Linked DNA regions of Homo sapiens: regions 2, 3, 4, 5 and 6 are each reported to be linked to region 1. Evidence: microRNA targets listed by miRTarBase, many of them from high-throughput screens and not tested one by one. Region 1 holds a microRNA gene; each other region holds the end of a gene's coding sequence.

Evidence for each region. Region 1 holds the annotated microRNA hsa-miR-6837-3p (CCUUCACUGUGACUCUGCUGCAG, at 2,520-2,542, opposite strand). A microRNA usually pairs through its seed, bases 2 to 8, with sites in the 3' UTR of a target mRNA and lowers its output. Matches are read on the target gene's strand: a 7mer-m8 pairs with bases 2 to 8, a 7mer-A1 pairs with bases 2 to 7 and ends in A, and an 8mer does both.
Region 2: miRTarBase lists MKKS as a target of hsa-miR-6837-3p. Seed matches in the 3' UTR shown: 7mer-A1 at 3,852-3,858, 7mer-m8 at 4,158-4,164 and 7mer-m8 at 4,818-4,824.
Region 3: miRTarBase lists ZNF785 as a target of hsa-miR-6837-3p. The part of its 3' UTR that is shown has no 7-base or 8-base seed match.
Region 4: the mRNA of APOL4 is a reported target of hsa-miR-6837-3p. Seed matches in the 3' UTR shown: 7mer-A1 at 4,068-4,074 and 7mer-A1 at 3,977-3,983.
Region 5: the mRNA of B3GALNT1 is a reported target of hsa-miR-6837-3p. Seed matches in the 3' UTR shown: 8mer at 1,411-1,418.
Region 6: the mRNA of MYO9B is a reported target of hsa-miR-6837-3p. The part of its 3' UTR that is shown has no 7-base or 8-base seed match.

The regions. Positions count from the first base shown.
Region 1 is chr7:44,049,276-44,054,348 of GRCh38, reverse strand. MIR6837 (microRNA 6837) reads right to left here and starts at 2,583; the gene lies at 2,520-2,583. It overlaps DBNL (drebrin like), which reads right to left. Exons shown (of 13, transcript NM_001014436.3): 2 at 4,069-4,124; 3 at 2,407-2,519; 4 at 1,408-1,482.
Region 2 is chr20:10,400,928-10,406,000 of GRCh38, reverse strand. MKKS (MKKS centrosomal shuttling protein) reads left to right here. Exons shown (of 6, transcript NM_170784.3): 6 at 314-4,992. The coding sequence ends at 754. Among named protein-coding and RNA genes, the nearest start is that of MKKS, 31 kb to the left of the region's middle.
Region 3 is chr16:30,577,850-30,582,922 of GRCh38, reverse strand. ZNF785 (zinc finger protein 785) reads left to right here. Exons shown (of 3, transcript NM_152458.7): 3 at 1-2,267. The coding sequence ends at 363. It also overlaps a transcript of ZNF688 not described here. Among named protein-coding and RNA genes, the nearest start is that of ZNF785, 5.3 kb to the left of the region's middle.
Region 4 is chr22:36,186,928-36,192,000 of GRCh38, forward strand. APOL4 (apolipoprotein L4) reads right to left here. Exons shown (of 4, transcript NM_001386885.1): 4 at 2,201-4,985. The coding sequence ends at 4,148. Among named protein-coding and RNA genes, the nearest start is that of APOL4, 12 kb to the right of the region's middle. RefSeq lists an enhancer at 3,174-3,675.
Region 5 is chr3:161,081,104-161,086,176 of GRCh38, reverse strand. It overlaps B3GALNT1 (beta-1,3-N-acetylgalactosaminyltransferase 1 (Globoside blood group)), which reads left to right. Exons shown (of 5, transcript NM_003781.4): 5 at 1-2,294. The coding sequence ends at 418. Among named protein-coding and RNA genes, the nearest start is that of B3GALNT1, 22 kb to the left of the region's middle.
Region 6 is chr19:17,211,774-17,216,846 of GRCh38, forward strand. It overlaps MYO9B (myosin IXB), which reads left to right. Exons shown (of 40, transcript NM_004145.4): 39 at 1; 40 at 122-1,513. The coding sequence ends at 537. It overlaps USE1 (unconventional SNARE in the ER 1), which reads left to right and starts at 3,584. Exons shown (of 8, transcript NM_018467.4): 1 at 3,584-3,734; 2 at 4,029-4,078; 3 at 4,219-4,297; 4 at 4,396-4,548. The coding sequence starts at 3,633. RefSeq lists enhancers at 3,224-3,804, 3,568-3,887 and a silencer at 3,908-3,977.

The sequences.
Region 1 (5,073 bases):
TGGTGGCAGGCACCTGTAATCCCAACTACTCAGGAGGCTGAGGCAGGAAAATCACTTGAACCTGGGAGGCAGAGGTTGCAGTGAGCCGAGATCGTGCCACTGCGTTCCAGCCTGGGTGACAGAGTGAGACTGTCTCAAAACAAACAAACAAACAAAAAACAAAACAATTAAAAAAAACTCTGATAAAAGAATGCCATGCATGTTTTCTACAAAAAGTAAGCCAATGATTTCTTCATAAGAAGCCAGACCCATGACGTCATTCACTGTTGCTATACAGGTTGAGCATCCCTTACCTAAAATTCCAAAATCTGAACTGCTCCAATGAACATTTCCTTTAAGCATTATGTCAGCACTCAAAAAATCTCAGATTCTGGGCTGGGCGTGGTGGTTCACGCCTGTAATCCTAGCACTTTGGGAGGCCAAGGCGGGCAAATCACGAGGTCAGGAGATCGAGACCATCCTGGCTAACACAGTGAAACCCCGTCTCTACTAAAAATACAAAAAATTAGCTGGGCGTGGTGGCGGGTGCCTGCAGTCCCAGCTAATCGGGAGGCTGAGGCAGAAGAATGGTGTGAACCCGGGAGGCGGAGCTTGCAGTGAGCCAAGATCACGCCACTGCACTCCAGCCTGGGCAACGGAGCGAGACTCAGTCTCAAAAAAAAAAAAAAAAAATTCAGATTCTGGAGAATTTCGGATTTTGGATGCTGAACTGAAAACATTCCCAAATCTGAAAAAATCCAAAACATTTCTGGTCCTAAGCATTTCAGATAAAGGATACTCAAACCTGTATATCGATAAGCTGGGAATTCTCTTATCAGCTCCTAGATGGAAACTGAGGTATAGCTGAAGAAATGTTGGCAGAACGAGAAATCAAAATTCTGAGTCTCCTTTGCCAGAGAAATGCAAAAAGTTACCTGACAAGTGACCAACAAATGCTTTTGTTACAAATAGTTTTTAAAATTTAAAAAGGTTCTATTATAGGACTGACATAACTCCATGTAGAGGGGGCTGGAAAGGAATGCATCAAAAGGGCACATGCGTGCTAAGATGGTGGGCACTCTCCCCTTCCTCCAAATCCTGACGGTATTACTAAACTGTTTAGAGGGATCATAAAACAAAACAGAACCAGGGCCCACCCTTCTCACGGCACCAGCTCCAGCATAGTCCTTTATCCTGCCCCACTGAGGCAGGCCTGTAGGTGGCCCTGGCAACATCCTGACCTCCCATGCACTCACTGACCGAGAGTGAAGCAGCCTCTGGTCATGCCCTCAAAGGCAGGCAGAGAGCATTAGCTATGAGCACACTCCCAACTCCAGTTCTGATTCCCACTTGCTCGCACCCAGGAACCTGCGAGACCTCAAGCCTGTGAGGCCTGTTCCCAGTGAAGCGGGCCTCACCTGGCCTTACCTTCAGGAAGCTGGCCATGGTGCTGACGTGGCTGGCACAGGCTCCCTTCCGCACATCGTTCACGCCCTCGCCTGTCTGCAACACAAGGATGCCCAGGTTGACCCAGGCCTCCCCCAAAGCCACTTCCCTTCCCTGGGGACCCAACATCTACCCTGTGTCCCAGAAAAGAGAAAACTGCAACCCCCAAAGCAGAACCTATTCTTCTGACTGCATCACATGGGTGAGGTAAGTTCCCATGCCTCCAAGGGGCTCATGGATTCTCCCTGGGCAGGATGGCTACCGGCTTTCGCTGTGGGGGCATTTCATGAATTTTCTTTTTTTTTTTTTTTTTGGAGATGGAGTCTTGCTCTGTGGCCCAGGCTGGAGTACAGTGGCGCAATCTTGGCTCACTGCAACTTCTGCCTCCTGGGTTCAAGCAATTCTCTTGCCTCAGCCTCCTGAGTAGCTGGGACTACAGGTGCACGCTGCCATGCCCAGCTAATTTTTTGTATTTTAGTAGAGATGGGGTTTCACCATGTTGCCCAGGCTGGTCTCAAACTCCTGAGCTCAGGCAGTCCACCCACCTCGGCCTCCCAAAGTTCTAGGATGACAGGTGTGAGCCACCCCACCCAGCCTTCAAGAGTTTTCTTGATCCCCACCAAGGGATCAAGGAGGCCCTGTCCCTGTACTCCCAGGCTCCTAAACACTCCCTCAGGCTCTCTACTCCATCAGAACAACCACCCTCAAGAGCACGGAGCAAGGACTCCCTGTGACTGCTTTTAATCCATTTTGCAGGAAGAACTCTAGGCTTGGAAGGTGAATTCTGCATAGCAAAGCCACAGTTATTCTTTGGGCCACAATGAATCTGTCAACTATTCTGCTCATTCACCAGCTCAGAGCTGTTCTATTGATCTACTAAGTCATGCCAGTAAAACACTTTGTTCCTGAAGTCAAGTCAAAACAGGAAAGAAGACAATGGGGTTTCCTGGGTCACACCTAGATGAAACAGGCTCCACATACCCAGTTGATGAGGACAAATTTGGGCAGTCCAGAGTTGGGGTCCTTCACTCTGCAGAAGGCGTACATCACCTTCCCGCTGTTGAGCTCCTCCACCATCTCCTCCAGGCCACCCTCTGCAGCAGAGTCACAGTGAAGGTCAGGGGTGGCCCTGACATTCCCTGCTGGCCCTGGTCCCACCATGAAGGGAGGCCGAGCTGCTTCTAAACCAGGGCTTCTCACCTCTACCTGTATCAGAATCTTTCTAGGGGTATGTTTAAAATCAGAGTCCTGGGCACCACCCTCACTAAACTGATTGATGAGAGCTGGGTGGGACCTAGAAGTCTGCGATTCTGACAAGTACCTCAGGTAATTTTTTTTACCCACACTCGTTTAAAAACCACTTCTCTAAACCCAGAGGTAATTCTGGAAATAAAAACAGGGTCATTTCCACGGCAAACCAGCCACCAGACTTCCAAATGGAGGATGGCTACGTCAAAATTTTATTGTTGCCACAACGTTGCAAAAGGGCCCGGAATAGCAGGGCCTGTAGAGTCACCACTGCCTGCACCTGTGTCTGCTCAAGTTCCAGGGCCACCCAGACGGCCAGACCAGATTGAACATCCTGCAGTGGCGTAACTGGCTCAGTCCTCAGACTCCAGAAGAGAGGGTGATGGGGACAGGGGGAGCACAGGAGTGGGCAGCTCTAAACAATTCTCCCTGACACTGAGGCTTAGCCCTCACAAACTTTTCCAGGTTATAAGGAGGAAGAGCTGATCAGGTATTTCATCTACAGGGCTCCGTATGAGTGGAGGCAGTCATGAGCCCCACTCTGGGGACAGCAAATTGTTGCATTTGTGGCAGAGCCCTGTCCTGTGCCACTGGGGATGACAGGAAACTCTCAAGTTGTTGATCTCTGCAACTCCCAGTCACCTGCCACACCACATGTCTACTGTTCAATGGCAATCCTTCTAGAAAGGGGACACCTCCCAGAAAGATTGTGAAAGGAAGGGGCTTTCTACCAACAACAGACATCAAACCGTGGAGAACCACTCCGAGTGTTCATTGAACAATGAAGCCATGTCCAGCTCAGGACAGAGGGAGGGGTCAGGCAACTTCTGGAGGAGGAGCAGTCACGGGTGTCAGCTGAGGGGCCCACAGGTCACACTCTGACGAAGCCTACCCTGACAACCTCTGCTCTGTGCTGGCCAAGAGCCTGTCCTTCCTGTAGAGACCTCCAGAGCCTCCCCCGTGACTATCTGCAGTGATACTGCCTCTCCCAGTGAGGATGGGGCCCCTGCAAGCACTCGGCACAAGACCAGGGCAGGACAAAGGGAGAAGAAGATATGTCTGTGGACTTTCTTTCCACCAGCACCAGTTCTGGGACTGGTGAGCTTCCCACCGCAGCTCCCAACGCAGGCTGCCCACAAGCTGGAGAGGCCTGTTTCCCTCTCAGCTCTCCCCAAGTAGACAAAGAGAAAGCACTCCCCTGCACCCAGAGGGAAGGAGAACCAAGGAGGAATGTTTTCACTTACACATATCTGAAACCTAAGGCCTGCCAGAAGTGGCCAGTGAGCACTGGAAGCCCCATGTGGCTCAGTGGACCAAGACAGCTGAGTGCGCTGACCCCTCGTCGTCACCCTCCTACCTCCTGGTGTCCCTGAGTCCATTTGGAGTCATACTCACCCCCTGTGCCAGCCACGCGGATGTCATTGCTGTTGCCTTCATAGGTAAAGAGAGCCCTGAAACGAAACACAAGTGAGCTCTGTAGCCAGCACCTTGGGTTCCATCTCTCCTCACCGTATCCACCATGACTTTCCACTACATCCCAAAGAGCTTGGGCTGACAGTAACACTGTGGGTGGGCACAGGCCCGTTCTCACTTTGCTCTGACCCACTAGGCAGGTTCTCAGTAGGCAACTGTGCAGCCTTCTCAGCTCTGCAGCTGGGAGGACACTGGCCTGACTTACCATGGGGTGGGGGTTGTGAGGGACAAAGCCATGGAGATGGGAGCACACATCTACTATGAGGAAAACATGAGCTGTGGAGTTTCCCAATGACTGCTATACATTCATGTGTCAAATACTCACCTGGCCACTAGGTATATGGATTTGAAGAGACAAAACATATCTACATATTCCTGAACCCAGAGCACCCAAAAGGAGAAGCAAGTCGGAGAAATACACACACTGGGCCCCTTGGAAGGCTGCCCACCACTCCTGTGCACGTCTGCCCTGGCTCCAGTGAAGCCTGGTGGGTAGGGCAGCAGGTCCTTCCAGGCTTGAGACTCTTTGGTAAACACAGACTACCACAGGTTGTGTTTATCAGAAACCACAAAGGAATGACACGACATGAAATCACACAGTTAAAGCCATGAACCTGCCAAGCCCCTCACGGACAGGTACCCATGAGCAAGTTTTCTATCTAGCAGAGCCTTATCTCTCCATGGGTGACATGGGGCCATGGCTTTCTTTTCCTGAAAGATTAATTATTCATAAGAACTTTGGGCTGGGCGCAGTGGCTCACGCCTGTAATCCCAGCACTCTGGGAGGCCGAGGCGGGCAGATGTGGATCACGAGGTCAGGAGATCGAGACCATTCTGGCTAACACGGTGAAATCCCATCTCTACTAAAAATACAAAAAATCAGCTGGGCGTGGCAGCAGGCACCTGTAGTCCCAGCTACTCAGGAGG
Region 2 (5,073 bases), not on the chromosome of region 1:
CATGTATTAAGGAGGCACTACCAAGCCTCATTCAGAATAAGCTGATGGTGGGGTTATTCTGATTCACTCATTCTGGTAACATGACTGGTAGTATATACATTTTTAATACATTTTTACTATAACCAACCTAGTTAAGGGTTTGCAACCCGGCCGGCTGACCCATACAAGCCCGTTAGCATTGTGCCAGACCCCAAATTAAATGAAAGTAAGTAATTACTTTAGGAATAAGATTTTGATTTCAGTATCTTATTTTTCTGAAACATTTTATATTAATTGCTTTGTATGTGTTTTCAATGTTTTTATTACTCTTTAGACTCACAACGACCCAGAAAGCATTCTCAAAGATGATGAATGTACTCAAACAGAACTTCAATTAATTGCTGAAGCATTTTGCAGTGCCCTAGAATCTGTTGTTGGCTCTTTAGAACATGATGGAGGTGAAATTCTCACTGACATGAAGTATGGACACCTTTGGTCAGTTCAGGCAGATTCTCCCTGTGTTGCTAACTGGCCAGATTTGCTTTCACAGTGTGGCTGTGGATTATACAATAGCCAGGAAGAACTCAACTGGTCTTTCTTAAGAAGCACACGTCGTCCATTTGTGCCACAAAGCTGCCTTCCACATGAAGCTGTGGGCTCAGCCAGCAACCTGACCTTGGACTGTTTGACTGCAAAGCTTAGTGGCCTACAGGTGGCTGTAGAGACAGCCAATTTGATTTTGGATCTTTCATATGTTATTGAAGATAAAAACTAAGAGAATAGCATGTTCGTATTACAAGAGAAACAAATAAACTAGTCTGTTGGCAATTGAGAAAAATTGTGAGTGTATTTGTTTTCTCCCAAAGCCCTGTTCTACATATTTGGACAAATGACTCATAAAATTATAGATACACTTATTTAGGAAAAAAGGTGATTCGTGAATGGAAATGCCATGAAACAATAAAAATATGAAGCATTATTTATTTAAAAATATTATAGTTATCTTAGGGATTCTATACTGGCTGCTGTACATTGTTCTAAATTTTTGTTATGTTGGCATCATTTTGAGAGCAAACAAATAAAAAAGACTCCTAATCCATGCTCTAGTTTGGATATACATATTTTAGATATTTTCCAGTTAGCAGTAATTACATATGCTTAAAGTATAAAACTAGATCTCAAAGTGTCACAAAACATTCAGTATATATTGCTCAATCAAAAGAAGTATTCAAACTGCACATTTAGTAAAATTTCACTTTTCTCCATGCCCTTTATCTCAAGCTATATTCTTCAGTGGTTAGGTAATTGAGTAGAACCTGGTTTGCCTGCAATTTGTAGTTTATATCACAACTCCACATTTTTGTTATTTTGGGGAAATGTTTGCTTTTGGGGGGAAAAAGTAGATTTATATAGTAACCAAGGCTAAAGCAACATTGTAATGTCTTCATTTTTAAAGTGGGAAGAAGGACTGGTTTGTTTTACACTGGGGTTTCTCAACTTTGGCATTATTGACATTCTGAGCCCCATAATTCTTTGTTGTACGGAGGCTGCCCTGTGCATTACAGCTTACTGAGCAGCATCCCTGGCCTCTGCACACTAGATGCCAGTAGCACCCTCCTGTTGTGACAACCAAAAATGTTTCCAGACATTGCCAAATGTCCCCCGAAGAGCAAAACTGTTGTTGGTTGAGAACCATAGACTGATAGAAAAAGGAAGGACAATAAGGAGTATTCTAGCAGGACTTCAGAAAGCAGCATAAAGGGAAGGGGAAGTTATTTCTCTAGTCAATAGTATGAAAAAGAAAGTAGAAAATCTCCCATGTTCAAAGTAGAGACATTATGTTTCACCAAGGGATGTAGTTTGAATTTTATGCAAATATAAGATGTATTGATAAATTGAAGAAGAAATATAGAAGGCAGCCACATGAATAAGCATGGAGCTATAACAAATGTTGTATTAAACTTTAGGAAAATATTTTGGAAATTTTTGGGAAACAAACCAACCTAATAGTCAATGATCAGATCTATAGCCATGATAAAGAGAAATAGAATTGTTAAACAATTTCCTCTGATATTCTTGTAATCAAAAAGAATTTTTACTCTGAGCCAAAGGAAAAAACTAGCAATACAAGCAGCAATGCCATCCATATATGTTAGGTATCAGCCCCACCTGAAGTCTCATAAAATATTTATCAAAAGTTTTACTCCTTTTATTATTACAATCAAATAGAAGGGCAGTGTGGTAGGCAGCCTCTAAGGTGGCCCCACCTCCTAGTTTCAGACCTTGCATAATTTCCTCCCCTTGAGCATGGGCTAGACTTAGTGACTCCTTTATGTCTCCCATTTCCCAGCTTTGTGGACAGAATGTTATGGTGATGGTTATGGTTATGCCTTATCCATAATTTTATGCTGTGAGTAGAAGGCAGATAACTTTTCTCTAGTTTCATGGGTCTACAGATGGAAAGCAACTGTGTTCCAGGAACTGTACTTAAAGAACTACCTCCTGAGGAAGCCTGGGGTGATTCCAGTTATGATATCACCCTGACTTGATTCCAATTATGAGATTCTGAACTTTGAGCTGATGTTGTAATGCAAAAGTGAAACTTTTGAGGATCTGAGGAGTAGGGGGGACGTATTTTGCATGTGGTAGGCAGCCTCTAAGATGGTTCCCAATAATCTCACTTCCTGGTGGTTCACTCTCTGGGTGTAGGTGGGACCTAATGACTAGCTTCTAATGAATAGAATACAGCAGAAGGGACAGGATATCACTTCTGATATTTGGTGGTAAAAAGATGAGTTTGTCTCTTGATGCCTTCTCTCTCAATGGAAGCCAGCTGTCATGTTGGGAACTGCCCCCTGGGGAGGCCCACATAGCAAGGGTTGAGGGAGGCTTCTAGCCAACAGCTCAAAAGGAACTGAATCGTACCAATAACCACAAGAGTGAATTTGGAAGCAGGTTCTCCCCAGTGGAACCTTGAGTTGAGTATAGCCCTACCACTGGAGCCACACGAGAGACCCTGATGCAAAAAAGCCAGCTAAGCTACTCCCAGGTTGGTTCCTAACCCACAAAATCTGTGAGATAATAAATGTTGTTTTAAGTCAAATTTGGGATGTACTTTCTTATACAGCAATAGCTATCTAATAAAGGCAGGAGGAAAAGCTTATTTGTAATAAATTATTTACTGAAAACTTGGTCACATAAATGGAAAAAAGCATTCTTGATGCCATGCCTTTGCATTTTTATCATCACCCCAACCTAAAAGAAGGGTTCTTTATCACATGTGTTTACAATGTGTCACATAGGAGTTGGGTATTGTCCTGGTTCTCTTTGCCCTTATCCTGCATTTTTTCAAGTTCCTCCAAGAAGGGGTGACACAGCGAACCTCTCCAATTGATCTTATAGATTAGGGGCTTCTACTTTTCACGATAGCCACTTTTTAAATTCTATCATTTTTAGCTTTGCCATACAATTTGATTACATTCCTTAGTGAAACATCAATGCTCTTATTTTGAATATATCACAAATTCGTTAAAATATATTTACAAATACCTCTATGTTTCCTAAAGTTATAATAATCCCTAGCAGAAAACACTGGAAATAGAAAAAAAGAGAAAAAAAACCTTCCTCTATAGTTCAAGAAAATTAGCGTTCAAACTTAGATGATAAAACATGAAATGAAAATTCTTGATGAAAATAATTTTAGAGGAGTTCCTTTTGGCAGAAATAAATGATAAGTAAAAATAGCAACTAAGGTAAGCCTCAGGCAGTGTTTTGTGACTTAAAGTAAGATTGAGGTCTGAATATTGCATTATGAAGTACCTCAGGAGAGAGAATGGGAAACCGTGATCGCTGTGGAAAAGGAAAGGGAGAGTGTGAAGAAGAAAATGAAGTCGGTGACAGCTGCTCAATAATTTCGTGGGACTCTCAGGACATGTAACATTAAACGTTATTCAACCATAGGAGTCCAACAGGATTATCATCTTATTAATCAAAAGGCATTAGGATTTTAGCAGCAAGGAAGAAAGTGGAGAGCTACAGCAAATAAAGGAAACTTTTAATCAAATACTTATTTGGTCTTATAGATATCCTACCCTTTAATTCTTCCATTTGTACCATATTAGAGAGTCTTTATATGTTAGACATTGTAAGTCAACTGTTAGACTGAAGCACTTTATGTAAGTGAAGTATTTTACACAAGATATTTAAACTATATCACATTAATATCTTTTATTATAGGTATCCTTGAACTCATTTGGTTTGTATTATCAAAGCTACTTAGGCATTTACATTGTAGACAAGAAATTTGAAGTAACCATAAATCAGCCATTGTACTATGTATTTTCATATTGTTGTTCATATTGTTGAGCAGTTCTTTGGATAACTTTAAAATAAAATAATGTTGTTTACCATCACATACATTATGCAGGTTATTTAAAATTATCATGTAAAAAATCAATGCAGGCCTTGACAAAACATACAATTAGTTAGGTTATTCCTTCCTGATAATCTTTGGGGAATAGTCAAAGAGACTAAACATCTCCTACAAGGCCCTGTTTCAGCTGTCTAAATAAAGCTATCTCTTAATCTGAAGGAAAAGTCAATTTTGAATATCTGATATCTTTATAATTTTTTTCATGTAGCTAAGTGCTTCCATTTAGTAACTATTGTATCCCATAATGGAAGTTTTTGCCAATCATCTACAGAATTTGAATTTAGATGCACCTAAACCCAATGTTAGCCTACTTTTGGATTATAAGTAGATTTATATGCTGCTTTACTAAGAATATAGTAATATTCATGAAAGAGAATGCAATCCCTGAAAACTATTCCTAAATGTAAGTGAAGCTGTTTGTTGGAGAGACGATTAGTCTTGGCGCACTAAAATCCATAGAATACTATATTACCTGTAATGAAGTGTGAATTTAGAGGGAAATAAAACAGCTTGACAATCTCCTATTAAAAATTCTCTTTGAGAAAATACTTATAATAAACATCTTATTTTAGCCATCTTGATTTTGTTTCTAGTATTGTGGTTTGATTTTGGGAAGTATTAATTGAGCCCTTTCTGTTTGCAGATAGGATAGTCAAGCGTAT
Region 3 (5,073 bases), not on the chromosome of region 1:
TGCCCCGATTGCAGCCTCCGTTTCGCCTACACCTCCCTGCTGGCCATCCACAGGCGCATACACACCGGCGAGAAGCCCTACCCCTGTCCTGACTGCGGCCGCCGCTTCACCTATTCTTCCCTCCTCCTCAGTCACCGGCGCATTCACTCCGACAGCCGGCCCTTCCCCTGCGTGGAGTGTGGGAAAGGCTTCAAGCGCAAGACCGCCCTGGAAGCCCATCGGTGGATCCACCGCTCCTGCAGCGAGAGGCGCGCGTGGCAGCAGGCCGTGGTGGGGCGTTCAGAGCCCATCCCTGTTTTGGGAGGCAAGGATCCCCCAGTTCACTTCCGGCACTTTCCAGATATATTTCAAGAGTGTGGGTGATGGCGTTCACACAAACTGGTCAGCGTTTCCCTGGAGAGGAAGAGGCAAGGTTTGTGTATTTGGGGGATAAGGAAAGGAAGTGGGCGTTTGAGGAAAACAAAGTTCTGCCTTAGGTAAAAAGCAGAGGTAGGGGCACAGAGGGCTGTGGGGAGGAGGCAGGAATCTGAAAAGGTGCCTGGGGGTTGACCCCATTTTCTGAAGCTCCAGCACACAGGGCCCCGTGTTCACGTCCCATCCTTCACTGAAAACCATTCACCTAACTGGCTTTTCCTTCATGATTGTTCTCTCCCTTGTAGCTCTCTGCTTTTTGGCCTGTATCTCTCCTACTCCTCTGAGATGGGGTCCCCTACATTCCAGTGCCTATTAAAGGAGCCTGCACCCACTCTGGACCCCCCAGAATAGAGGGGATACCTCAGGCCTGTCCCTCGGCTGGTGGGGGGGGCGGAGCTCATCCCAGGATTCTTTTCTTTTTTTTGAGATGGAGTCATGCTCTGTCGCCCAGGCTGGAGTGCAGTGGCGTGATCTCGGCTCACTGCAACCTCTGCCTCCTGGGTTCAAGCCATTCTCTGCCTCAGCCTTCCCATTAGCTGGGATTACAGGCATGCGCCACCAGGCCCAGCTAATTTTTGTGCTGTTAGTAGAGACGGGGTTCCACCATCTTGGCCAGGCTGGTCTTGAATTCCTGACCTCGTGATCCACCCGCCTCGGCGTCTCAAAGTGCTGGGATTACAAGCGTGAGCCACCGACCCCTGCCGAGGATTCTGCCTTTTACCAATGCAGGTGAAACATCTGGCAAGGAGACACCTGGAGTGTAGGTGTTCCTTGGTCTTGAAGACCTAGAGGTGGCCATAGAGAGGACAGTGGCCTCAGGTGGGGAACTCCCCCCCCACTCTCATTCTGCAAGTGCACAAACTATCAAACATAGCGGACTCTGGAACTGGGCCAACTCTTCACTGTATGCATTAGTGATTGCAGTGTTTTTTTCTTCTTCAGATATTTGCATGTTCCCTGGATTTTGTATTTTTTGATAAAGATATATTCTTGGGCCACAGTAGCTGGAGATATAATGCCGGAGGATTCTTTTTTTTTTTTTTTTTTTTGAGACAGAGTCTGTCTCTATTGCCTGGGCTGGAGTGCAGTGGCCCAAGCTACGCTCACTGCAAGCTCCACCTCCTGGGTTCACACCATTCTCCTGCTTCAGTCTCCCGAGTAGCTGGAATTACAAGCACCCGCCACCACGCCCAACTAATATTTTGTATTTTTAGTAGAGACGGGGGTTTCACCGTGTTAGCCAGGATGGTCTCGATCTCCTGACTTCGTGATCCTCCCGCCTCGGCCTCCCAAAGTGCTGGGATTACAGGCGTGAGCCACTGCACCCAGCCTCTTTTTTTTTTTGAGATGGAGTTTCGCTCTTGTTGCCCAGGCTAGAGTGCAATGGCATGATCTTGGCTCACTGCAACCTCCGCCTCCTAGGTTCAAGCGATTCTCCTGCCCCAGCCTCTTGAGTAGCTGGGATTACAGGCACCCACGACCATGCCTGGCTAATTGCATTTTTACTAGAGACAGGTTTCACCATGTTGGCCAGGCTGGTCTCCAATTCCTGACCTCAGGTGATCCACCCGACTTGGCCTCCCAAAGTTCTGGGATTACATTTTTTTTTTAAAGAAAGAATAAATTAATTGTGATTAAAGTTGAAATCAAGGCATAGTCTTTCCAGTCTAATTTTTACTGTAATGCTTGTATGTCAACAGTTATGAAGGCCAGGCGCGGTGGCTCACGCCTGTAATCCTAGCAGTTTGGGAGGCTGAGGAGGGTGGATCACTTAAGGTCAAGAGTTCAAGACCAGCCTGGCCAATATGGTGAAACCCCATCTCTACTAAAAATACCAAAAAAAAAAAAAAAAACGGCCAGGCACGTTGGCTCACACCTGTAATCCCAGCACTTTGGGAAGCCGAGGCGGGCAGATCACGAGGTCAGAAGATCGAGACCATCCTGGCTAACATGGTGAAACCCCGTCTGTACTAAAAATACAAAAAAATTAGCCAGGAGTGGTGGCAGGTGCCTGTAGTCCCAGCTACTTGGGAGGCTGAGGCAGGAGAATGGCGTGAACCCGGGAGGCGGAGCTTGCAGTGAGCCGAGACTGCGCCACTGCACTCCAGCCTGGGTGACAGAGCGAGACTCCGTCTCAAAAAAAAAAAAAAAAAATTAGCCAGGCCTGGTGGCGTGCACCTGTAATCCCAGCTTCTTGGGAGGCTGAGGCAGAAGAATGGCTTGAACCCAGGAGGTGGAGGTTGCAGTGAGCCAACATAGCGCCACTGCACTCCAGCCTGGGCAACAGAGCAAGACTCTATCTCAAAAAAAAAAAAAAAAAAAGGCCTGGTGTGGTGGCTCACGCCTGTAATCCCAGCACTTTGGGAGGCTGAGGTGGGTGGATCACGAGGTCAGGAGATCAAGACCATCCTGGCTCACACAGTGAAACCCCATCTCTACTAAAAATACAAAAAATTATCCGGGCATGGTGGCGGGCGTCTGTAGTCCCAGCTACTGGGGAGGCTGAGGCAGGAGAATGGCATGAACCCGGGAGGCGGAGCTTGCAGTGAGCTGAGATCGCGCCACTGCACTCCAGCCTGGGCGACAAAGTGAGACTCCAGTCTCAAAAAACAAAACAAAACAAAAAACAACAGTTAAGAGAGTTCTTTCTGGCCCATTTAGATCTGCTAGCCCTACTTTTGAAGAGGAAACTTTTGAAGGAATGAACAAAAGAGGTAGGTGGGACTAAGCATTTCTGCATTCCAGGACTGGTGGTCAGTGACTCAAATATCTCTTTGAAAAGACTGCTTCTTTGAATCCTTGGGTTCCAAGATAATTAATGGGAACTGGTGCCGGGCACGGTGGCTCACACCTGTGATCCCAGCACTGTGGGAGGCTGAGGCTGGTTAATCACTTGAGGTCAGGAGTTTGAGACCAGCTGGGCAATATAGTGAAACCCCATCTCTACCAAAAAATTAGCCAGGCGTGGTGGCACATGCCTGTAGTCCCAGCTACTCAGGAGGCTAAGGCAAGAGGATCACTTGAGCCTGGGAGACAGAGGTTGCAGTAAGCTGAGATGGCTCCATTGCACTCCAGCCTGGGCTACAAAGCAGGACTCTGTCTCAAAACAAAAACAGATACAAAAACTGGGAACGGGGTGTTATCTTTACTTCACCACATAGCCTCTCCTGAATTGGTGGACCTGGATTCCTAGCTTGGCTCAGTCCCCACTGGCTGTGTGGCCTTTAGCATCACCTAGATTCTACAAATAACATTTTTCTCTATTTGTTTTACACATGTCAATCTGCCTATCCATCCCTCTATCCATTCATTTATCCATTTTATTAATGTATTTCAAAGTAAGTTGCAGACATCATTACATTTCACTTCTAAACACTTCAGCATACAGCTGAGTTTTATGCAAGAAACTTAAGCTCTCAGCTGGGTACAGTGGCTCACACCTGTAATCCCAGCACTTTGGGAGGCTGAGGCAGGAGGATTGCATGAGATTGGGAGTTTGAGACGAGCCTGGAAAACAGCAAGACCTCATTTCTACTAAAAATTTTAAAAATTAGCCGAGCATGGTGGGGGAGGGTGAAGAAGGAGGATAGCTTGAGCCCAGGAGTTTGAGGCTATAGTGAGCTATGATGGCGCCACTTCAGTCTGAGTAACAGCAAGACACTATTAAAAAAAAAAAAGAGCCAGGCGCAGTGGCTCACACCTGTAATCCCAGCACTTTGGTAGGCCAAGGTGGGCAGATCACCTGAGGTCAGGAGTTTGAGACCAGCCTGACGAACATGGAGAAACCCTGTCTCTACTAAAAAAAAAGAAATACAAAATTAGCCAGGCATGGTGGCACATGCCTGTAATCACAGCTACTCGGGAGGCTGAGGCAGGAGAATCGTTTGACCCCAGGAGGCGGAGGTTGCAGTGAGCCAAGATCGTGCCATTGCACTCCAGCCTGGGCAACAAGAGTGGAACTCTGTTTCAAAAAAGAAAGAAAGAAATTCAGCTCCCACTTAAAGTTCAGTTGTACTCTGTTATTGACAAGTAAAGTCGATTGAAGCCCAGTCATCTCCTGTATGTTGTGTGACTTCTCATAATTATCTGATCAAGAGTCTTGAAGAAACATTTACAATTTGATGGGCAATAAAATAATTTGAAAGCAAGAGCATTTTGTTGTTCTTGTTATTTCTTGAGACAGGGTCTCACTATAGCCTAGGCTGGAATGCAGTGGCACAGTCACGGCTCACTGCAGCCTCGACCTCCTGGGCTCAGGTGTTTCTCGTTCTCATCTCAGCCTCTTGAGTAACTGGGACTACAGGCATATGCCACTATGCCCAGCTAATTTTTGTATTTTTTGTACAGATGGGGTTTTGCCCAGGCTGGTCTTGAACTCATGGGCTCAAGTGATCTGTCTATCTGAGCCTCCCAAAGTGGTAGGATTACAGGTGTTAGCCACTGTGCCCGGCCAATTTTTGTATTTTTATAATGAGTGGCAGGAAAAACAACTCATCAGCTACACGGAACAGTTTTAGTCTTACTTGAAAGTTTGTTTCAGGCCTGGCGCTATGGCTCATACCTGTAATCCCAGCACTTTGGGAGGCCGAGGACGGTGGATCACTTGAAGCCAGGAGTTTGAGACCAGCCTGGCCAACATGGCAAAACCCCATCTCTACT
Region 4 (5,073 bases), not on the chromosome of region 1:
TGGCCAGAGGCTTCCCATTAGGGTTTGTGTCTCTGTTACTCATCGCTGTTCCTGATACCATAGCCTGACTGATTGGTTCAAGAACAGTCACTGACCCAAGCTATCCTCTCATTTGAGAATGTGAAACTTTAATCAGAGACACTAGGAATCAAAGTGTGTGGAGCTAAGCCAGGTGCAGGCAGAGCCCTGAAAGGGCAAACCATATATTCCTGATGTTGGTAATGGTCTGCTCCTGTCCTTCCAAATTCTGTAGATTTTGTTCTTCCTTCCATCCTCTGACCTGCTCTAGTTTTCATCCAATGAATCTTCTATTTTGTTTAAGACAGATAGTTTCTGTTTCTGTTGCTTGCAATTGAAAAATTTTTAAACAATACTAGCAGTACAGTGGAATTGCATCAAATGCAGGTAGCCTGATGGCATTTCAACTCTAAGTGTCAGGGCAAATGCTGGCTGGATCACTGAAGAAGTAAATTACTCAGTGCCAGAAACATTCAAAGCTTAAGTGAAATGTATGAAAAGAATGGGAATTATCCAGGAATTGATGAACAATTGACAGACAAATGAAACACAATGTTCTGGCGTTAGGCAAGTCGGTGGCCGTTGCTCTGTTGACTTCTTCAGGAAGAAATAGATGAATCAACTGAAGGTCAGGGAAGCCTTGGCTGATGGAGAGTTACAGGGACTGAGGCAAGTGTTCTGCAGGATGCTACATAAAAAAGGACTAAGTAGGCCCTGGGTGCACTTTACGAGTGACTTAGGAGAGGTTCTGGGGTGATTTTGTGCATTCTGTATCTCTTGCCCCTGCTCTGGGCTCCAGCTGAGGCGCCCAGCAGTTCTATATTCTATGCATGGAAATACAGATAATTAATGTCCACTGGGGCAAGGCCATGGGGGACAGGAGCAGTGGTTACAGGCCTCCCTCTCTCCTCCCTGTAGAGGAACATTCTGAAGACGCTCCTTGAAGACTCCTCAGGAGGTCTCCAGTCGCCCACATGGGTGACCCTATCAAGAATTTCTCCCGGCATCAGCCTTCTGTCCTTCTCTGTGTCACTCCTCCCAGTACCCCAGTCCTGCTCCTAGAATCACTTCCCAAACAAATCCTCTGCCTGGGAGCCTTGCCTAGGGCTCTCCCTTCAGGGGAACTCAGGCCACAGCAGCCTACATTAGACAGCATGAAGGCTCTGGGCTTTTGTGCTAAGAGTAATAGGAAGCCATTGAAGACATGGAAGCCGGTGTTTGATGAAATCTGTGTTTTTATGGGTCAACTTGGCCCAATGTGGAGGAAGAGCTGGCCTAGCGGCAAGGGCTGTGTATCAGCGAAGACCATTTTGGAAGCTTTTGCAGGAGTCTGGGCGAAGTGAGAAGGCTGACTGGATGAGGGTGTTTGCAGACTGGATGAGGGTATTTGCTGTCTGGCTGTCTCTCTCTGTCCCTCTATGTCTCATGGATTTTCCTTCAACCTACATACAGGCCCTTCTGATCTTAGCCTCATGTGACCCATGTCAATCCTGGGCCCTGGCTGCTAGATCAGGACCACGCCTGTACTAGAGCCAAGCCAGAAGTCTACAAGTTTTCCCTGAGTGCTTCAGGGGCCACTGGGCACTGGGTTCGCAGAGAAATGAGCAGTCTGGAGAGTAAGCAGAAGGGGCCATGGAGGCCTAGCTCCCTGAGAGCCTGGAAGAAGAATCATGAGGAAGAGAAGTCAGGCACCCAGAGCCTAGGGGAGCCCATATATCAACACACAAAGGCTCAGTCATCAGTCAGTGTTGCTTGAACACAAGTCTCTAGAACACAAGAGAAGAGGGCCAGGTGGATGTGAGATATCATCTTGTCCAGCCCCCCTTTCCCAGCTGATGAGGAAACTGAGGCTCAGAGAGATGGGGTCTCTTGACTGCAGGCTGGTTCATCTCCTCAATGCACCACAACATTCCTTGACTTGTTCCTGGCATCTGGTTTTGCTTTTATTTTTCTTCACACATCAACGTTTCCAATATAGCATTTGGAGTTTCATTGAAATGTCATCGGTCCCTCAGTGTACGCTGGCCCCAAGCAGGGCCGACCCCATGTCAAGTCCTCTTGCTGTCTGCTGACATCACCACAATCACCTTTACCACTGTTAGGACAAAAACTTGAGACAGGAACTTGCCCTCAAAGCGGGAAAGGAGCCATGAGACCAAGGAATGACTTAAACAAGTCCAGCTTGGCGAGTAGCTAAGTTTATTAGGACTTACACACAGGGCACTCAGCAAGACAGCTCGAGAGATCCAGCCTCCCCCAATGTCTAAACTGCTTTTCAGTTAATTTTCTGGCTCTTTGTCTACTATATATGAGCAACGAGACTTTTACTTGGTTGGTTCTCAGATACTCTCCAGGATGTTTGGATTCTCAGAGACACCTGGTCCTCAGCTGGGCACCATGGAAATGGCTCATTACCCGGCCTTCAGGGTTCAAGCAGGGGACATGCACCCTTAAATAACCTAAAGGGGACCTGTCACACTACAACCACCACCACCATCATCAAGAAGCCACTGGCTGACTCAGATACACCCCCGGGAGGACAAGGGAGAGTGGATGCTGGTAAGACAGGGTGAGAGACCATCACCAGGGAAGGATTCCATTCTTGGAAGGACATCCAACCGGGGGGCGGGTCTTTAGTGGAGCCGCTGTTTCTTCTCCTGTATCCAACAGTTCTAACTGTGGCTTTCTCCATTTTCAGCTCTTTCTTTTCCTGGTCTTCTCATTGCTTGTTCCTACGTGCCTCCCTCTCTTCCTCCCCCAATATACTCTTTAGTCTAGAGTAAACTGCTTCTTTCCATTCCCCACACTCTCCAGTCCCCTCTCCTCCCTTATTCCAGGCCCCAGCATTTCTGCCTTCTCCTTGGCGCACTTGCCATCTTGAGTAACCCCTCCCCTGCTGTGCTCAGCTACAGATGCCAAAGTTCCTAACACTGAGTTCCATAAACTTTACCTCGCCCTCTTTATTCCCCTAAAAAATGTCTGCGTTTTGTCCCGGCCTGTGTCTGGCTCACCTTCCCTGGTGGCTGCACTGCTCTGGGGTCATTGGGTATCGGGGAACCTGCCCCGATGGTCACGTAGGTTCTTTTCTATTTTCCCTAAGTGTTGGCCGGTTTGAGAAATAAAGGCACAGAGTACAAAAGAGAGAAATTTTAAAGCTAGGTGTCCAGGGGAGACATCACACATCGGTAGGTTCCGTGATGCCTCACAAGCCGCAAAACCAGCAAGTTTTTATTAGGGACTTTCAAAAGGGGAGGGAGTGTATGAATAGGGTGTGGGTGTGGGTCACAAAGATCACCTACTTCACAAGGTAATAGAATATCACAAGGCAAGTGGAGGCAGGGCGAGATCACAGGAACACAGGACCGGGGAGAAATTAAAATTGCTAATGAGGTTTCGGGCACCATTGTCATTGATAACATCTTATCAGGAGACAGGGTTTTGAGAGCAACCGGTCTGACCAAAATTTATTAGGCGGGAATTTCCTCTTCCTAATAAGCCTGGGAGCGCTATGGGAGACTGGGGTTTATTTCATCCCTACAGTCTCGACCATAGAAGATGGCCACACCCAAGGAGGCCATTTATAGACCCACCCTCAGGGGTGCATTCTCTTTCTCAGGGATGTTCCTTGCTGAGAAAAAGAATTCAGCGATATTTCTCCCATTTGCTTTTGAAAGAAGAGAAATATGACTCTGTTCCACCAGGCTCACTGTTGGTCAGAGTTTAAGGTTATCTCTCTTATTCCCTGAACAATTGCTGTTATCCTGTTCTTTTTTCAAGGTGCCCAGATTTCATATTGTTCAAACACACATGCTCTACAATTTGTGCAGTTAACGCAATTATCACATGGTCCTGAGGTGACATACATCCTCCTCAGCTGACAGGATTAGGAGATTAAAGTAAAGACAGGCATAAGAAATCACAAGGGTATTGATTGGGGAAGTGATCAGTGTCCATGAAATCTTCACAATTTGTGTTTAGAGATTGCGGTAAAGACAGGCATAGGAAATTATAAAAGTATTAATTTGGGGAACTAATAAATGTCCATGAAATCTTCACAATCCACGTTCTTCTGCCATGGCTTCAGCCAGTCCCTCCGTTTGGGGTCCCTGACTTCCCGCAACAATTGGGCCTAGCCTGCTTTTAGACTCTGATGGATATGGGTGAGCTCATTGAGATTCTCCTCCAGCTCCTGAGCCCACTGCCTCAGCGACTCAGCAGACTCGGATTTTGCCCCCTTGTGCAAGTCCAGTGAGTCTTGCACAAGGTTGACTACATCCAGCACAACAAGGACACCTGAAGTGGCCTTGCCCAGGTTCCGGGCTACTTTTCTCACTATCCGGGTGGGGGCCCCACGTGTTCTCAGTGTCTCAACAACATTTATAGGTACATATCGCCAAGCAATCAAAGGGCGTCCAACAGTGGCTTTAGATCTCCTGAGTGTATGGACATCATTCGCAATCATTTTTGTGGCTTCGTCAAAATCAAGTGCAAAAGAAAGCACATTGGGTGTGATGTCACGCAGAATGTCCCTTAATGCCTCCAATTGGTCAGTGCTGGTTGCAGTCAGCCTGCTGGCTGTGAGTTCTGCTGACCTTGTGTATGTGTTCTCCACGATGCTGGAGGCGATCCCAGCCGTGGCAGATGCTATTCCCAGCCCTACCCCAGCTGCAGTAATGCTCAGGCTCAGCCCTGCTGTAAATGGTGCCAACATAACGCCAATGACAGACAGGATGCCAGTGGAGCCAGACACCACATTGGCGATGACGCAGCCTCTGTGGACCTTTTCAATCTCATTTGCAATGACACGAAGCCTTTCTATGGACTCCTGAATCTTCCATCTGATTTGAGGAAACTCTTTCAAAAACCACTCCCTAAACTGCTGTTCTTTTTGCTGCATGTCTTTGTCCTCAATAGCCACATATGGTGTAAGATTCTTCAGAGCTTCATAGAGAGCATCTGCCTCTTCCCTGTACCAATAAAGGACAGATGATTAAGAAAGGCAGCTTACTTACCTGTAAAATGAGCTCAATAAGATCTATTCTGCATAAATCACAG
Region 5 (5,073 bases), not on the chromosome of region 1:
TCTTTTAAACCTAAACCACTCAGAGAAGTTTTTCACAGGTTATCCTCTAATTGATAATTATTCCTATAGAGGATTTTACCAAAAAACCCATATTTCTTACCAGGAGTATCCTTTCAAGGTGTTCCCTCCATACTGCAGTGGGTTGGGTTATATAATGTCCAGAGATTTGGTGCCAAGGATCTATGAAATGATGGGTCACGTAAAACCCATCAAGTTTGAAGATGTTTATGTCGGGATCTGTTTGAATTTATTAAAAGTGAACATTCATATTCCAGAAGACACAAATCTTTTCTTTCTATATAGAATCCATTTGGATGTCTGTCAACTGAGACGTGTGATTGCAGCCCATGGCTTTTCTTCCAAGGAGATCATCACTTTTTGGCAGGTCATGCTAAGGAACACCACATGCCATTATTAACTTCACATTCTACAAAAAGCCTAGAAGGACAGGATACTTTGTGGAAAGTGTTAAATAAAGTAGGTACTGTGGAAAATTCATGGGGAGGTCAGTGTGCTGGCTTACACTGAACTGAAACTCATGAAAAACCCAGACTGGAGACTGGAGGGTTACACTTGTGATTTATTAGTCAGGCCCTTCAAAGATGATATGTGGAGGAATTAAATATAAAGGAATTGGAGGTTTTTGCTAAAGAAATTAATAGGACCAAACAATTTGGACATGTCATTCTGTAGACTAGAATTTCTTAAAAGGGTGTTACTGAGTTATAAGCTCACTAGGCTGTAAAAACAAAACAATGTAGAGTTTTATTTATTGAACAATGTAGTCACTTGAAGGTTTTGTGTATATCTTATGTGGATTACCAATTTAAAAATATATGTAGTTCTGTGTCAAAAAACTTCTTCACTGAAGTTATACTGAACAAAATTTTACCTGTTTTTGGTCATTTATAAAGTACTTCAAGATGTTGCAGTATTTCACAGTTATTATTATTTAAAATTACTTCAACTTTGTGTTTTTAAATGTTTTGACGATTTCAATACAAGATAAAAAGGATAGTGAATCATTCTTTACATGCAAACATTTTCCAGTTACTTAACTGATCAGTTTATTATTGATACATCACTCCATTAATGTAAAGTCATAGGTCATTATTGCATATCAGTAATCTCTTGGACTTTGTTAAATATTTTACTGTGGTAATATAGAGAAGAATTAAAGCAAGAAAATCTGAAGTATTGTCTTGTTTTTAAAAAATACAGTTCCTAGTGTTTTTAGAAGTCACTTAATTTGTCTCATTTTTCCACCTGGAAATTAGGAATAATGTAGAATGCAAGGCAGTAATTTCCTTTTGGAAAGGACTCTGAAGGCAGAAAAGAAGGGAGAGAACCTCATGGGCAGAATATTATAAAAAGAGTGTCATATTCCAGCATTTGAATTGGAAAGAGAAGAGTGAAGATCCAAGTTGCATTATTAATCTGCCCTGTGTTTTTTCCTTTTAACAATCAGTTTGAGCTGCTGCTGTTATGAGTTTCTCATCAAGATGAAAGCCCTAATATGTAAAGTCAAATCCGATTTAAATTTTGTGCTTTTATAGAAAGAAATTTCTTCATAGACGTGGTGATATATCATTTGTTGGACCTGCTAATAGTAGGTCAAAGGGGAGCACTCCTTGCCCCCTGTTCCTGGGTTTATGCAGTTTTCTTTTTAGAGTTTATATAGGGCAAGTGGTTCTTTTTCTCTGAATTACAGGATGGAAAAAGGTCATATCCTTTGTCAGGAAATATAAACTTGAAAGTATGTAGTCAGCTCTTGTAATACTCATATTTATGATTGTCCTATATGAAAAACAACTTCAGTTAAAACTATAATGTGTGATTCTGTATAACAAGGTGATGTCTGTTTCCCAGGGCTCAGACCTAATCCAGTTATAATAAAATCAATTAAATGAAATATTCTATAGAATCGATCTATGCCCTTGTTAATCTCCATCCATATAGGAGTCACGTTCTTTAAGACAGATGGTGGTAGTTATTTTTGTGGCATGGTTAGATTTGACTGGTTTTGCAGAAGATTACAGTTATGTACTGCATAATGACATATACAATAGTGGTCCCATAAAATTATAATGGAGCAGAAAATCTATTGCCTCATGATGTTTTAGCCGTTTTAATGTCATAGCCTAGTGCATTACTCACGTGTCTGTGGAGATGCTGGTGTAAACAAACCTACTACACTGCCAGTTGTATAAAAGTACAGCACATTCAGTTATGTACAGTATGTAATACTGATAATGACAATAAATGACACCGGTTTGTGTATTTACTTTTTATAATTAGAGTGTTCTATTCCTACTTATTAAAAAAATGTTTAATAGAGCCTTGGGCAGGTCCTTCAGGAGGTATTCCAGAAGAAAGCATTGTTATCATAGGAGATGACAGCTCCATTCATGCTATTTCTCCTGAAGACCTTCCAGTGAGACAAGATGTGGTGATAGAAGACAGTGATACTGATGATCCTGACCCTGTGGGCCTAGGCTAATGTGTGTGTTTGTGTCTTAAGTTTTTAACAAAGTTTAAAAAGTAGAAAAATAAAGTTTAAAATAGGAAAAAACTTACAGAATAAGGATATAAAGATATTTTTGTGCAGTTTTACAAGATGTTTGTGTTTTAAATTTAAGCTAAGTGTCAAAAAACTTTGACAAAAGAGTCAAAGTTTGAAAGTTTGTAAAGTTAAGTTACGGTGAGTTAAGGTTAATTACTGAAGAAAGAAAATTGTTAAATGAATTTAGTGTGGCCTACTTTAAATGTGCCATGTTTGTAAAGTCTACAGTAGTGCACAGTAATGTTTGAGGCCTTCACATTCACCCACCACTCACTTAGTGACTCACACAGAGCAACTTCCACCCCTGCAAGCTCTATTAATGGTAAGTGCCCTCCCTATACAGGTGTACTATTTTTTATCTTTTATACTGTTTGGTTTTTTTTACTGTGCTTTTTCTATTTTAGATACACCAGTACCATTGTGTGACAGTTTCCAACAGTAAGTATTCAGTACAGTAACATTCTGTACAGGTTTATAGCCTAGAAGCGATAGGCTCTACCATGTAGCCTAGGTGTATAGTAGGCTATGCCATCTACGTTTGTGTAAGTACACTCTAATGTTTGCACAACGACAAAATCACCTATTTCTCAGAATGTATCTCCATTGCTAAGTGCCACATTTCTGTATATCGATGTTTGGGAAGCTAACTCAAAACATTTCTAGAGAGAACTTTTAACATAAAAAATAATTCCCTTTCACTTTTAGAAAAGACCAAAAAACAAAAAAAAAACAAACAAGTTTCAGAAGATTGTTTCTTTTGAACTGAAGATTGGTGCCTAAAAGAACCTACAAAGTTAAATGATTAGGAAAACATTAAGAGATTGGGTCATTATATTTTTTGTTTTCAACTATATTAAGCTTTCAGGAAGTAAATATTAGCTGTGTTATTAAAATCATGACCTGGTGTTTAACCAAATCAGCAGCTTTAAAAATTTTAACTCATATAACAACGTTTAATACTGGAGCTTATCCTTGGGCTGATTTGGTCCCATCTGCCTTAGCCCTGCCATCCCCATAGTTTCACACACCCTCTGCCTCACTTGCTTTCCTTGTCTGCAGGTGTTGAGTTTGTGACTTTTAGCACATTAGTTAGCTTTGCTAAGGGTCACAAATGCTACAGTAACGCCCAAATCTCAGACTTGATGACAACCAATGTTTTCACTCAGTTGCATGGCAGTGGTTGGCTGCAACCCTGCTCTATGTCTTTTTCATTCCAGGATCCAGGCTGATGGGCAGCCCGTTTGGAACATGCTGTTCTTATAGAAGGAAATTAAAAAGCTGGTGGAAGCACAGTGGCATATATTAATACATCCACTGGCTGAGATGAATCCCTTGCCAAGCCCAGTGTCACTGAGGTGGGGAAGTATATTTCTCTTGCAGGAAGTAACTGCAAGTGATGTTGCAGCATGCAGGAATGTATTGTTCCACAGAATGGGGAATGAAAAACTGAGTGCAGTCGTACTGTAAGCTGCCACACTCAGTGTCTGAAAGGGAGAGGGAGCCTTCAGACAATGCCAGACAACTCTGCAACAGACCCCAATTTAGGCCCTGTAAACCAGAAATGTAAGAAATAATTTTTGCCTAATGCTGCCAACTTTGGGGATGCTTTCTTACGATAATTAAAACATTTCTCACCAAGGAAATTTCCCATTGTCTGTGGCCCCGGGGCCAAGACTTCTCTCCTCACATCTGGCCACTCCTCTATACATGCCGGGCCTTACCCCTGCTTGAGGTTATCAACGAGTAATTTCCAAAACTCCTTTCCACTTAGCCCTCTTTCTGTTTCACTTTCTCCTTTCAGACCATGTGGGAAGCAAGGCAGGGGTGAATGCTGCTTAACATTTCTCCCCCCCCACACTCCCCCCAAAAAAACTCATTCAAGGCATTTCCCAGATAAAAGGAAATCAACTTCTCTAAAGATAAATTTTGTCATTCTTTTAAAAGGTTGCAGCAGCTGCTGTGATGGTTCTAAATGCCACTCTTCCCTCTCTTGCAACATATGTACAAACTACAGAAACAGGATGAAAATATAACAAAATTTGAACAGAAAATGCCTCTCAAAAGATTTCTTCCTACTTTAAAAGTACCTTTTATTACATTCTCAACAATGAGGATAAATCATTTTTATAACACAGATGTTTTAACAAATACATTAACAAATTTAGGTAAAGGTAAAAAGTGGCATCAAAATGTTATGAGCAAAGGCTGCTGCGGTGCAGGCCAAATGCTGTGTTTGCCGGTAAGCCCCCAGCCTCACGTGCCCACCATCCCGCTTTCTTCTGTGCAGGCAGGGGCTGCCTCCCATCCTCAGTCACTTTTGTTGTTTAAGACGGTCTCGCTCTGTCGCTCAGGCTGGAATACAGTGGCACGATCATAGCTTTACTACAGCCTCGAGCTTTTGGGTCCAAGTGATCCACCTCAGCACCCCCCAAGTATCTGGGACTACAGGCGTGTGCCACCACACCTGGCTAATTATTCAAAAACTTTGTAGAGATGGGGCTTACTATGTT
Region 6 (5,073 bases), not on the chromosome of region 1:
GGTCAGTATTAAGGTAGCGTCTGCTTTTCTCCTTCCCGTCCATCCCAGCAGGCCCCAGGGCGAGGGTCCTCCGGCTGCCGGCCCTGAAGCTGCAGTAACCCTGCCATCTGTCTCTCAAAAGGGCCCCCTGCGCCTGCTCTCCCTTGCCCCGGCGCGCCCACCCCGAGCCCCCTCCCCACCGTGGCCGCCCCTCCACGACGAAGGCCGTCGTCCTTCGTAACGGTCAGAGTGAAGACCCCCCGGCGGACCCCCATCATGCCCACGGCCAACATCAAGCTCCCACCAGGCCTGCCCTCCCACCTGCCTCGCTGGGCACCGGGTGCCCGGGAGGCGGCTGCCCCAGTGCGGCGCCGGGAGCCACCTGCCCGCCGCCCGGACCAGATACATTCCGTGTACATCACGCCCGGGGCAGACCTGCCAGTGCAGGGCGCCCTGGAGCCCCTAGAAGAGGATGGCCAGCCACCTGGGGCCAAGCGGAGGTACTCGGATCCCCCAACGTACTGCCTGCCCCCCGCCTCGGGCCAGACCAATGGCTGAGAGCCACAGCTGACAAAGTCTGCATGTCCGAGGACGGCCCCTGCACTGGAGCTGGGCGCCAGAGCTGCAGAGCTAGTGTTCGGCCCTCAGAGAAGGATCCAGAATCAAAAGCTCAAGAGTGACGTGAGGTGGGCACCGGCCCCAAGTGCAGAGTCAAGGCAGGGAGAGGCCGGCTGGAGCCAGGCCCCCTCGCACGCAGCCCCCAAATCATGGACGCACCTGTGGGGAGCACCACATCTCCACCTGCGGCCTCACATCTCCCCACTCCCCTTTTTGTACGTTTAACTGTTTCTTTGTACGTGGTTTACGTAACTTTAAACTGTAACAGCCTTAATGGAAGACCAAATGGTTTTTTATATGTGTATGTACAAAGTTTTCTATTAACGCTGCCCGTCTCCCTTATAACCTGGACGTGAGCTGTCAGAGCAGAAGCCACTAGGCCACTGCGCGTCTGAGGCTCAGACCCTGCTGTGGTTGGCTTGGGGTGGCCAATGGGCTGGGACCCTCCATGAGAGTTTTGGACACTTGGGTCACCTGACCCGTGCCTCTCTGACACATGTCTCCGGGGGGCAGCCACCTGGCCAATGTGCATTTTTGCACATGCTGGAACCTTCCATGGGGGTCTGGGCTATTGGCTGGAGCCAGGACATGAGTCAGGGGCACCATGGACCTCACGTGCCAGGGAGACTTGAATGTGGCTGTCACTCTTCCGGACGCCAAGGGCTGCAGGAGGCTGCTTTTGGCACTACCCACCCCGTGTGACAGAATAGGAGCCAGCGACTCAGGACTGCTCACGGGTCAGGAGGGCAACGCCTGAAGTCAGACCTCCCTATAGGTCAACAGGGACAACCTGGGGATCTCTGGAGCAGGGCCCTCCTCTCTCAGGCTTGGCCCACTCCCCCAGACACCTGGACACGTGGCCACAAATCTGGGACAAGGGGCCCCCGCACAGCATGAAATAAAAAGTGCCTGAGAAGTGTGTGCATGGGACGCCTGCTCATATGGGATCGGGCTTGGAAGAACAGGGCCGGTGGGTGGGGGTCTGCCCTGTGGCCTCAGCCAAGAAGGGTGCAGAATATGGGTGGAACACTGTCCTCAAAGTTCTGTCTTGATCCTCCACCAAACAGGGAGCTCCCAGCAGAGCCTCACTTGGCCAGGAGCGCCTGCTGTCCTGGCAGCCCTCTCTGGCCTCCCTGATTCAGTGCCCAGCCTCTGGAGCCTAAATGTCAGCTGCAGCAGCCACCCATCCAGCAGAGGTGGCCAGTTCCTGGTGGGCCCAGCAGGACAGGAACAGATGGGCTCCCAGGCTGCCATCGGATGGGAGTCGTGGGAACTGGCTGGCTGGTATTGGTTGGGGCACCGTGAAGAACCCAAGTTCAGACAGCACATGCCAGAGGTTGAGGGGCTTCTCCAAGGCCACACAGTTGGGAGGGGCATGGCTGGGATTTAGACTCTGCCCTGCCAGCCTCTAGAGGCCCCTTTGATGGGCCCTGGGTTTGGTCTCCATTGTTTGTTGTGGGTTTTTTTCTTGAAACACGGTCTCGCTCTGTCACCCAGGCTGGAGTGCAGTGGCGCGATCTCGGCCCACTGCAGCCTCCACCTCTCGGGTTCAAGCGATTCTCCTGCCTCAGCCTCCCGAGTAGCTGGGATTACAGGCACGCACAACCAAGCCCAGCTAATTTTTGTGTTTTTTGATAGAGACAGGGTTTCACCATGTTGGCCAGGCTGCTCTCCAAACTCCTGACCTCCAGTGATCCATCCACCTCACCCTCCCAAAGTGCTGGGATTACAGGCGTGAGCCACCGCACCTGGCCCTCCATGGTATTTTCTTTTTTTTTTTTTTTTTTTGAGACGGAGTCTTGCTTTGTTGCCCAAGCTGGAGTGCAGTGGCACAATCTCGGCTCACTGCAACATCCACCTCCTGGGTTCAAGCGATTCTCCTGCCTCAGTCTCCCAAGTAGCTGGGATTACAGGCACCCACCATCACGCCCGGCTAATTTTTGTATTTTTAGTAGAGACGGGGTTTCACCATGTTGGCCAGGCTGGTCTCAAACTCCTGACCTCAGGTGATCCATCTGCCTCAGCCTCCCTAAGTGCTGGGATTACAGGTGTGAGCCACCGCACCTACCCGTCTATGATATTTTTCAAGGACATCAGGCCCACTGGTGTAACCAAGGTGCAGATGACCTAAGGTGTGGGAAAACATGAAGGCTGCATGCCAGGCCCTGGTTCCTGTGAAGCCCCCACCCTCATCCTGTCACTCCAGAAGAGAGGCACTGCAAGGCATAGGGGTACTCAGCTTCCAGGTACTGAGGTGGGCTGGGAAGGGGTTCTCCATGGGGGTCTGGGCGTTAGGGGGGACCCAGCCCCACCTTGCTCACTCTCAGGCAGAGCTGTCTCATGTGCCCCTTGAGGCAGGTACTGTCACACTGTCCATTTCCCGGGGGAAGAAGCGGATCCAGAAAAGTTAAACTCTCCCAGGGCCGAGGATGGAATCAGAGCTGGAGCTGTGACCTGGAAACCCATAACCACAATACAGATGAGCCCTGCTGAGGTGGGGGAAGCCTTGGATTCCTGAATCCCAGGCTACAGAAATCGGGAAGGGTGTGTGGACGTGAAATAGCTCCGACTGGGAAGAATCCAGGTAGGAGTGGGGTGCGGGGAGGTACTTTGAGCAGGCAAAACAGAACAAAAGGGCACACTGCACGCGGGTCTGACACCAGAAGACCCCGGTCGTCCTATCATTCCCGAAGGGTTAACATGCTCTCGAGGAAAAGCAAGTGATTCGCCTAAGTAAGAATGGGGTGGCGCCTCTCCTATTTTTTTAAAATAGAGATAGAGTAGCGCTATCTTGCCCGGGCTGGCCTCAAGCAATCCTTTCCCACCTCTGCCTCCTAAAATGCTGGCATTACAGCCCTGAGCCACCGCGCCCGGCCCAGCGCCCCGTCTCAAAACAAGATATTACTTCCGCTCCAAACAAAGATGGGCCAGCTAACGAGCGCGGGGGAAACATCCGCCCGGAAGGCCACTTGAAGGCACTTCCGCCCTCTCTTAACATGGAGCCGGCGGAAGGGGTGGTGTAGGGCCGGGCGATAATGGCGGCGTCGAGGCTGGAGCTAAACCTGGTGCGGCTGCTATCCCGCTGCGAGGCGATGGCAGCGGAGAAACGGGACCCGGACGAGTGGCGCCTGGAGAAGGTGAGGGGATCTCGCACTGCCGCGTAGAGCCCGACTCCCGGGGGGTGATTCCTAGGGTTGGAAGCCACCTGGCCCGACTCCCCGGCCCCAGTAGCCTCTCGGGCAGCGCCCTTTCCGGTCAGTCCCGCCACGTCCACCTGTAGCTTCCGCCCCCGTCCCTGGGACTCCGCCCCTCCCCCACTGGCCCCGCCTCCTTTACGCTTGACCCCTCCCATTTGTCGGCCCCGCCCCCCCGACTCCCATGATCAGGACATGGGAAAGACCCCCGGGTGACAATCCACTTTTCCTCCCCAGTACGTGGGAGCCCTAGAGGACATGTTGCAGGCCCTGAAGGTCCACGCGAGGTGAGTGCAGGCAGCCTCAGGGCTTTCACATCAGCACGTGGCTGTGCTACTGGACATCCCAGTACCGCTATCCCAGCTGGGACCCTTCCCTGAGCTGGGGACCATGGACAGGTTTTGTTTTTCTTCTTCCTGCCTTCCAGCAAACCGGCCTCTGAGGTGATCAATGAATATTCCTGGAAGGTGGATTTTCTGAAGGGGATGCTGCAAGCCGAGAAGCTGGTGAGAAGGGGTGCCCCTGCCCCCTCAGCCCCCATCACCGCTCACTTTGGTCCCCAGGACCTGCCCCTCCAGTGACTTATCTTCCCACATTTCTGCAGACCTCCTCCTCAGAGAAAGCACTGGCCAACCAGTTCCTGGCCCCTGGCCGTGTGCCAACCACAGCCAGAGAGCGAGTGCCCGCCACAAAGACGGTGCATCTGCAGTCACGGGCGCGGTACACCAGCGAGATGCGGAGTGAGCTACTAGGCACGGTAGGGCTCCTTCCCTGGTCCCTGGGAATCCCTTGGACAGGAATAGGGGTTCTATGCTTGTAGGCAGCCAGAACCACAATACTGTCAGATACAGGAACCCTAAGGGGGTCCAGCAATCTCTTCCCTGGGTCATCACACAAGGCTGCCCAACAGAGGGGCATTGTGGCTAAGGCTTTGCTAGATGAATAGGAATTTGGTACAAGGCAAAAATGGAATGTGTCTGGTTAAGCCCCAGAGTTGGCCCAAGAGCAGGGTTTGAGTCCTGGCTTGCAACTTACAAGACACATAAGTTTCTTCAGCCGTAAAAGAGGATGACAAGTTCCTTTCTGAGCACTTTATGTGGATCAGCTCAATCTTTTAAAATATGAGTTGTTGTGGCCAGGTGCGGCAGCTCACGCCTGTAATCCCAGCACTTTGGGAGGCCGAGGCGGGCGGATCATTTGAGGTCAGGAGTTAAGACCAGCCTGACCAACATGGAGAAACCCCGTCTTTAGTAAAAATACAAAATTAGCTGGGCATGGTGGC